2 separate regions of the Homo sapiens genome follow, and region 2 is linked to region 1. Evidence: fine-mapped expression QTL. Tissue or cell type: adrenal gland. Region 1 holds a variant in brackets; the other region holds the start of a gene. All regions are shown on one strand. Distances are between the middles of the regions.

What was found. PIP is the estimated chance that this variant, and not a neighbour inherited with it, causes the effect.
Region 2: GBE1 starts here. The variant in region 1 is fine-mapped to the expression of GBE1 in adrenal gland (GTEx, PIP 0.97).

Annotation. Positions count from the first base shown.
Region 1 is chr3:81,539,508-81,544,507 of GRCh38, reverse strand. The region is part of intron 12 of GBE1 (1,4-alpha-glucan branching enzyme 1); the gene reads left to right. Among named protein-coding and RNA genes, the nearest start is that of GBE1, 220 kb to the left of the region's middle. The variant CG/G (reference allele first, on the strand shown) is at 3,049.
Region 2 is chr3:81,759,057-81,764,211 of GRCh38, reverse strand. It overlaps GBE1 (1,4-alpha-glucan branching enzyme 1), which reads left to right and starts at 2,567. Exons shown (of 16, transcript NM_000158.4): 1 at 2,567-2,837. The coding sequence starts at 2,695. RefSeq lists silencers at 2,339-2,438, 2,939-3,018 and enhancers at 2,094-2,702, 2,489-2,778, 3,119-3,288.

The DNA of each region.
Region 1 (5,000 bases):
TCATACCATGAATTCTGAATTCTCTTAGAAAGGGTCCCAAGCGATGGCTCAAAAAATGATTATCCTCTCTTCATTTTGAATCGAGGAACATTCTATCTATTACACTACTGATCATAATCATAATTTAATGAGCAGAACGATCATGCTTTGATGGTTAGTGCCAGATTACTTGTAATACGTATTTTGGACTCAGAACTATTGTTCTTAACTGTCACAGTCATTGCCTCTGTGCGCTACAGTTAGTTTAAATGTGACTTTTCTAAGCCTCTTATCTGTTGAATAAACCAGCCAAAGGTTTTAAAAATGCTTCCTTTAACTTAGCTTTCTACTTTTCTTTTTTATTTTGCTTAAAAGCCCTTACTTGTGACCCATTCTTCTAGTTGCTGGCATTCTAATATAGTGAATGGTTCTTTCACAAATACAGTTAATCTTTGGATGCCTGGAGAATCCAAAGAACACATTTCTCTCCTCTGAAAAATGCATGTGAACATACATACAACATTTTGCATGAAATATTAGAAAATCATTAGAAATGCATGAGCCCCAAGTTGTGAACACCTGTTGCATTCATTGAGGAACATATAAATGTATTATGTACATATGTGTACCTATCATATTCATATATAATTTAGGAATATACATATTGCTTAAATTCAAATGCTGATTCAGATCATATTGTTTGCATTCTGTCAAGTCATCTATGCTAAAATAAATCAATTATATTATTTGCCATCACCTGAATAAATTTAGATTTCTGATCCATTTTTATACACAGTAGCCCTTATACACAGCACCCTTACTTATAGGCTCATTTGGGTCACCATATTTCACTGTACTGTCTGAATTACTGCCATATATCCTAAGTAATTTGTAGCCCATAGCTGAGAAGGACATTCTTAACTTGTTTTAATGATAATATTTTTCTTCATTAGGTTTGTGAGCTTTGAGCTAGTGGAAGATACTAACAGGCATTTTCCAGTTTTCTCTCTCAGGCCTTAAGAATGGTTCACTATTATCCCAAGGTCACTTTGAAAGTCTTTCTGTGATTTGCTTCCATTTATTTTATGCTTGTGTTTATGGTTTTGAACCAAATATGAAATTTAATGTTGCGTTTGTCTACATTAAACTTAATTTGCCCCTTGTCAGCTCGTTTACAACAGAGAAAACATTCAGAGCCACCCTGTAGAATGTTTTGTCTACAATCACTGATACAATTTTTCTGTCTCTCTTTGTTGTATGCAACTTTCTATATTTTTCAGTCTAAAAAGAGGCCTCTCTGAAGGAACATTTTCAGAAAATCTAAATGTCTAATAGAGATTAATAAATGATTTTCTAATAAAATAGAATCATTACCGTATTTTGAATTTTTTAAATTAAAGTTCTATTTTCTAACTTAGAAATTTAATTTCATATTACATATTATATGAATATGCTTCTTGAGATGCTCTTAAAGTAGTGAATTTATACTTTAAAAAGATAAATGAAATAAAAGTTAAAATATAAACAAAATCTTAAATTGAGTTACATTACCAAATATTACCAAATATTTTGTGTGCTTTTTTCTTTTTCTCAGATTTTTCTAAGTACTGAAATTAACCTCATGTAATTAAATTTCTCCATTTAAAAATTAGTTACTTTTTAAAAATAATTTCAACTTTTATTTTAGATGCATGGGGTACATGGGCAGTTTGTTATGTGGATATATTGCATGACACTGAGGTTTGGGGTGTGAATGTCTGTCACCCAGGTGGTGAACATAGTACCCAATAGGTTGTTTTTCAGCCCTCCCTGCTTTCTCTCTCCTGCCTCTAGTAGTCCCCAGATGAATTTTTTCTTAATGCTTACTAATTTTTCAATACCATTATATGGTATTGAAATGACAAATATTTTAAATTGATGTATCTTAGAGGGCACTAAAATGAAACATTAAATATACATGATGAAAAATACTTTTAAAGTAGAATCCTAAACATATACATTAAGAAATATAATTTGTGTGTTGAAAATTATTTTCAGGAGAATCTACTAACTTGTGCCTGTATCTTCGAATCATGAGCAGTGTTCAAAACTTGGGAAATGTTTGATCCTAGAATATCTGCTGTTTACCTTTGAGCAGATATTATATTTATTCAGTTTATGTTAGGGAAATATCAGACAGGTGTACAAAGATACATATAAAAGACTGGTGATTTTTTATAACACAGAAATATTAGAAAAAGTCAAAATTACCAACTTAAGGTGATTGGTTAAATAAAATTTCATTACATGGTCCACAATGGAATACCATCATGGAGATGCATACCTATTGATATGCAAAATGCTCATTTTAAATTTCAAAATAATATATAATGCAAGTCTATCTTTGTTCAAAAACAAGTTGTAGGTAGTTGGTAGATAGGTATGAATGTATGTATAGGTATCAATATAGATATAGATATAAATATACAGATGTGGATATAGACAAAAATAAATACAATGTTTATCAAAAGAAAAACAGATTATTTTGTAACATCTGTGTGTGTAATTGTGATTTTTAAAAATATTTCTATGAGTGGATTACTTAATAAATTAATAAATAAAATAAAAATAAAACATTGTAATAGAAGTCAATATTTATTAAGCACATACTATGTATCGTATATGCTTCTAAATAATTTACATGCCTTACCTATTTAATTGTAATTATGCTACTCTTCAGTCCTTATTATCTTAGCCTGTTTGTCCTGCTATAACAAACCACCATAGACTGGGTGGCTTAAACAACAAAAACTATTTCTCATAGTCTGGATGCTGGGAAGTCCTAGATCGAGGCACTGGCAGATTTGATATCTGGTGATGCCCTATTTCCTGGTTCACAGATGGCTGTCTTCTCACTGTATCCTCCACAGCAGAAGAAACAAGGCAGCTCTCTGGGGCCTGTTTTATAACAACATTAATCCTGTTCATGAGGGCTCAACCCTCCTGAACTAATCACCTCCCAAAGCCCCATCACCTAAATACCACCACATTAAGAGTTAATATTTCAACATATGAATTTGGGCGAGGTGG[CG/G]GGGGGGGCAACTTGCAGCCCATCACCATTATTTATGCTGTAGATTATAAGCATGTGAATTTTTCACACTGGAATGTTAGAAATAAATGATAATAATGTAATTTCACATTTTTATGGAGTCCATGAACCCTCTGAGGCTGTATCGTGGGGTGGGTGTGTGTTTGTGTGTGTGTGTATGTGTTTTCCTGGGGAGCAGTTACTTAGCTTTTAATCAGATTGTGCGATGAGTTAATATCGTCCTCTGATAGTTTTAGTCAAACTCACCATTCATTTCTGTACTATTGAAAACTCCACTACAAAGTCAAGATACTAACAGCAAGCAAAACTATACAGTGAAAATGAATTTGTTGTTTTCACCTCATTAATCTACCCAAGGCAGTTGGTAAAGATAGCAAGCAGCAACAGCGTGACCTCAGGTCACATTTTCAAGCAGGCTAGGAAGAAATGGGAGTTGGGGAGGTCATCAGGTGCCAGGAGTGTTCTAGCCAGAGCAGAACTCTACTTTTAGATAGTGCCTAAAATGTTAATTTTAAGTGGTATATAATCAACTGTCAGTTAAACTACAAATAACCTTTGAGAGCTTATTCAGAGGCTTTGCAAGGTGAACATGTAGAATAGTGAGGCTTTCATGAGGGTGGATATAGGATTCCTAACATAGTAATCTGATTTACCCAATCAGTCTGTGTCTTGTAACAACATTATTTTCATTTTCAATTCTGTCTTTTAAGATCTAAAACAGTAGATGATTCAAAGCACATTAATACTTGGCTTTGGGATATATGTTTGTATTATTAAAATATGAATAAATGCATCTGTGCAGAACTTCAGCACTTTAAAGAAAGGAATAAGGCCATTCCATGAAAACCTGTATGAACAAGAGCCAAATAGCTAGCAACCCTTTGGATTCATCCTTGTTACCTGTATGGGCAGCTGGTTCTCTCCTCAGAATGATGATTTTACAGATGAGGAAACCAAGCACTAGAGAGATTAAATTGCCTATATTCACATCACTTATAAGTGGCATAGCTGTGATTTAAACCCAAGTCTTGCTAACTTGGAAATCTGTATCCATGGGCATCATGTTGTCTAACTGACTACTTTTAAAATATTATGGAGAAGTTGATAAACTGTAGATTCCAGCCTACTAATCACTCCAGAAGTAATGTATCCATATCATTGAGGGTAGGGGTGAACATTTTTAACAGCCTTCCTTGGTGATTCTGGAATGTAATATAGATTGAAAAGCATAGCTTTACACCATCTTATTTCTGCATCAGAGGGGAGATCATGTAGCAAGTTCTTATTTATGATTTTATTTTTCGGTAGCATTTAATGCTACTGACCACCATCCTTGGGACTTTTCTTAGCCTTCTATGTTTTCTTCTAATGTCCCCTTTACCCTGCTAACCATTGCTCTCAGTCTTCCCTAACATGGCTTCTTTCTGCCTTCAGTTCCTTGGTATGCTGGCCATGGCGTTTTTTCTCTGGTGGCTCTCATTATCTTTGCTTATTGAGGCTTTATAAATTACTCTTTCTCCCCACCTACAATTCTCTCTTGAGTTTCAGTACCTTATTTTTATCGTTCTTCTAAATCTACAGATGCTGATGTTTCCTTCGTGTCTTAAATTTAGCAGGCCTAAAATTGAACTCATTATCTTCTTACCCCAAACTTTCTGTCACCGTTTTCCTCTAGTGTAGTTAACACTGTCACTACTCAGCCTTCTGAACTCAAAACTTCAAAATTGCATTCCGACTTTCCTTTTCCTCACTGTCGCCATTCAGTCAGTCTGTCATCAAATCTTGTTATTTCCATCTCAGAAATGCCATTTGAATCGATCATTCTTTTCTGTGTTTCCACAGAATCTCATCATCTGTTATACATTGGATTCCATACCAGTTTTCCTATCATTCAACTTTCCCTGATATCCAGTCTTTTTTCCACATGGTACCA
Region 2 (5,155 bases), 220 kb before region 1:
TTTTTTTTTTTAAAAGACCAATTCAATTCCTCCATTGCACGAACTCTGCCATTCTGGAATGCTCTTCCTCTCATGGCTCATTTCTTCTTGTCATCACACTTCAGCTTAAATGTCAGTTCTGAACGGCCTTTCTTGACGACCGGAACTAACACAGATATTTGCTCAGTTTTAATTCTCGACAATGCACTTACCACTATCTGACATTGTTTTGTATTATTTTATGTATTTCACTGGTAATTGTGTCTCCTCTCCCTCCTACCCCCAATAGAGTATGACAACTGGGACTTGTCTTATCATTTATCCACAGTACGTGGGAAAATGGCCGGCACATGGGACTTCAATAAATATGTGCTCAATGGTGAACCACCTAGGTAGGCAGATATGTACGCTAGGATCGTGCTCGTGGGGAGCTTAGGTTCTAAAGGGAAAGGTCAATAAATAGGAGAAAAACAAACACCTAGATTCTGTTAACTGTTGCATAGAAGAGATTGAAGTTATACAGAAGACACTGAGGAGTCTATAATCAGAAGTTTCTCAGGTATGAGGTGACATTTTTGCTGAGGCTGGAATGAAGGCTTGGAAAAAATTAAGCAAGTAGAGCTCAGCTCCCTGAAAATTTCCAACAGAGAGAACAGCAAGCAAATAATCTTAGAGGCTATTATACAACAAATTCACTGAGTTCCAGGAAAGTCAGTGTGACTAGAGCATAGTAAAACTGGAAAATGATGAGAAAAGTGGCTGGAAAGGTAGTCAGGGTCCAGATTATACAAGCCTTGTTAGAGAATGATAAGCTGTTTCTATTTTACCCTAAGTGAAATACTATGCTATTTAAGTTGCTAAATGACATCGTCTGATTTACTCAGTGTAGAGTCTCACCAAACTGTGTCCCCAACCACCAGCATCAGAATCACTTCTGAGCTTGTTAAAAATGCAATCTGAAGCACCACATCGGAACTCAATTAAGATCCCTAGGTGATTCATATGCACATTAAAGTGTGAGAAACACTGGTACAGAGAATGGAGTAGAGGTGAGAAAGAGTAGAAGAGGGGAAGTCAGTTAGAGAGCTACATTCTGGTCCAAGTGAAGGAAAACAGTGGCCTGCATAAGAGTGACAGCAGGAAGGATGAGAAGACGGATTCTAGGTCACGTTTTGCAGACAGTTTGTTTAGGTCTCCTAGCCAGCTAAATGGAAATCTCAGTAGACAGGCAGTGATACAAGCCTGGGTTTCTGAAAAAAGTTTAGGCTTGGAGATGTAGATCTGTGGGTCTGTTATTAATAGTTGTCCTGCTTCGGGTTTTTATTTTTTTTTAATTTTCTTCCTTTTTTAGTGCTTTATATTTTACAAATGTCTGCAGCAGTTTTTTGTCATCTTTATGGAAAACAAGGCACGTCTTAAAGTCGTTCAAGTCCTTCACTTTTTCACACTGAGGTCTGTCTTCATATCCACTTATCTTTCAAGTCTATGAAACCCCTTATAAAAACTTTCCTTTGAAATATTTTAAAATTCAAGGCCCACGGCTGATTAATACTGTTTCTCCTCCATAACCCCTAGGATCCTCCAGTTCTGGGTTTTAACAAGAAAAATATCCTCAATCCTCTCTAGTTTCTAGGTGTAAAGCAGCTTGGACCCTCCTGGGTTTGGTGGGTCCATCTCTCTTGGAGTCCAACTCTGTATTCCTAAAAAGCAATTATTGAAATAGAAGCTAGTCAGTTAATGGCAATAAAAGAAGGGAATTCCAAGTGGGAGCTTCCCAAGCCAAGAGGAAGAGAGGTTTCTTGCCTTATCACTGTAAGTGGCAGAGTGGAGTTCCAATTCAATGATATCATTTGTGTTATCAAAGGTAGTTTAATCGTTGAAAAGCTTGTTAACAATTATAAACACAGGCAAATGCCTTTTCCTTTTTGGCCTTACGGAGAATGAGAAAAGTTCTTCCCATGGCTAAAATTCTTAGCTGTTGGTAATGCAGAAAAGAGTACCAGAACAGCAGAATTCCAACGGTATTCCAGGATTCTGTGTCTTGGTTAATTTTAAATTCACGTGACCTGGCAAACTTAGGAGAGTCCTGGTTGTAAGAGGTATTAACATTTTCAGCAGTAGTACTCTAGCTACACTTGACTGTTCCCCTCTCTGTGAATTTACATGATATGTTTGAAATACTGCCCCTCAAAAGTCTCAGAACTTTGAGAAATACGGTCCTTTCCAAAAAAACCCCTTATGTCCAATTTGAAGGGGTCGCTGTCAGTGGGTGCTTAAGTGGGTAAAGAAAAGCCAAGAATATGTCAGGGTGAGGAAGGCCAAGGCTGAGCGAGGTCAGCTTGGGACCCACCTCCTAGAATGACCTCCGCCAGCAGGAAAAAACCGTTAAGGGGAGGAAAGGGCAGGTCCCTGCGGCCTCCAGGTGCCAGCCGCGTGAGTGGGCGGAGAGGCCTCGGTGCCTCCTACCCGCTCCGGACGTGCGTCCCGGCATCACCCCGGGATCCGCTCCTCCCCGCTGGCGGGGGGAGAAAGGGCAGGAGGCCTTCCGTCCCGGCTATAAAGGGCCCCGGACCGCCGCGGCTCGCCTCGGCTTGCCTCGACACGCCTAGGCGCCCTCCGGCTCCGCCCTAGCCGCCGCGTCCCAGCTAGAGCTCCAGCGCCCGCTCAGGCCCCACTCGACCTCTCGGGCCTCGGCTACTTGGACTGCGGCGGAATATGGCGGCTCCGATGACTCCCGCGGCTCGGCCCGAGGACTACGAGGCGGCGCTCAATGCCGCCCTGGCTGACGTGCCCGAACTGGCCAGACTCCTGGAGATCGACCCGTACTTGAAGCCCTACGCCGTGGACTTCCAGCGCAGGTACCGCCGGAATCCCACCACCCCCACTTAGACAGGCAGCCCGCCTCCCAGGAGCCGTCTCGGGACACGGGCCGCCCCTCGGCCCTCGCGCGCCAACCCCGCCCCAGGCGGGGAGGAACCTGAGTGGGCGGGGCTCGGGGTGACTCGGGTAACCGGGTTCTGTGGCTTCCGTAGTGGCAGGTTTGACAGCGCTGGTGCCCGGAGCGGGCGCTGAAGAAACTTCTTTCCTCATCCCCTTTCCCCTCTGTTCTAATCAGCGGTCTTGCGCCATAGGGTACGTGCTGTGGCTCCAACACTTATTCCCCAGAGTGCTGCTGGGGAGTGACTCACCGCCGCTGCAGGTTTTCTGACTTTGGCACCCACTAGCGTGGGCCTGTGGAGTAACGTGGGCATAACTCCTGGCACGTGTAATTACGCATTTAAAACTTTCTAGTTTATTTCATAGCAAATGTTGTGATTTTATATCTAAGAGGATTCCTTCAGGCAGACACTATATCCTTTTGTTTTTTCCTTGCTAATATTCCTCATTTAGGGGAAGATTACACCTACATTGATCAATTTTTTCTCCCCTTGGATCAACATTGAGAAGTTAAATGTACATCAACATTTGTCCGTGTGTGACTTTAACCATCTTGAAGAGGGAGAAAGGTCAGGAAAGCAACTTTTACAGGCCAATGTCGTTTTAGCTTGTCTTCTACCATTGTGTACCATACAACTTTAGTTACTGGGCTAATAATTCTATTCATAAGTTCCACTAAAAAGGTACAGGTCTTTTTCTGTTGTCGTTGTTGTTTGAAGTAAAAGAGCTATTATACAAGTTGTAATAGTTATACTTGTGAGGTTACCCCATTTTGATTTAATAGTTTCTCCCCTTTTAGGAGAGACACTGCAGAATGGAAACTATCCTGGCAACAGAATATACATGGCCAATTTTTCGAGTGATGGAAAACATCCAACTAGTTAACTGGCATGAAGGAGCGTTGAGAGTAATGAAAATGGGTTGATTTGGAGTTTGAAAAAAGCCCAGCAAATTGTTTGTGTCCTAGCATTTTCAGGTATTAAATGCATTCAAATCAGCAAGTGTTTATTGAGGAACTCCTATAAATAAAACACTGCTCTAGGGATTGTAAGGGATGTGAAGTTTCATTCTTGAGCTTGTATATAGTAGTGAATGAGGCCTCTGTAAAATAATCACCTTGAGCTGTCCCTCACTTAATCAGATGATTATGCTCTTATATAAACCATATGAGGAGCAGCCTTGTGAAATTGTTTTCAGAATTTACAGTATATGCTTTCAGAGAAACTTAGTGCATAATCGTCATAGGTTTAAGGTTGGATTTGATTTAGAAATAGTCAGAAAAAATTTAGAACAAAAGATAGTGATTAAAGGTAGTGGTTAGATTTTTTTTTTGATGTCCTTGTAACCATGACATTAATTTACCTGTGTGCTTTGTAAAAGGACACTTAAGATATTTATTAAAGAAGAGTTGTGGAAATGTTTTATCTACACCCCCTTCCTTTTTTTTTTAAATGACACAAACAGATTAACATTCTTTATTAAGTGTTTCTTTCATGTACTTTATTTCCAACTCCACTGGGATTGAAGCATTTATAATCTTCTTTCATGGTTTGCCAAAACTAATGAAGGGAACAAAGGCCAAGATAAAGAAGGGAAGAGAATCCAGTGTGCTTGGTGAAAAGTCTCGTCCAGTGGGCCCTCATGCCTCACTCTGACCCGGATTTTACTTTTGTCCTTGGTTCTGAGTAATGGCCATTTGCTAGCATACATGTTCCATTTAGGCATATCAAATAGTAATTTGGCATTTGTTAGTGGTAACTTCTATTGTTAACACTTGAAGAATAAAACATTTTTCCTTCATACAATCTGGTCTTAGTTCCTTGTCCAATTTTCCATTTATTTCTGATAATCCATTTGGACTGTGTGTCTTTGGCCTAACACAAATACATAACCAGTCAAACACTTAGGTGCAAAGTATGCTTACTAAGGAGTGAAGAAAATTTGAGGTACAAACAACAGTATATAATTAAGGTGATGAAGAAGGAAATTTCTCTTTGATGGACTGTCTCATCCTTCCCCAACAGATATCTTTTGATTTGAAATTTTTTGGATGTTCCCTTAGGATGTTTTGGATGTTCCTTCCCTTCTTTACCTTGGCCTTTTCCCCTTCTGTATTAGTCCGTTTTCATGCTGCTGATAAAGACATACCTGAGACTGGGCAATTTACAAAAGGAAGAGGTTTATTGGACTTACAGTTCCAAGTGGCTGAGGATGCCTCGCAATCATGGCAGAAGGTGAA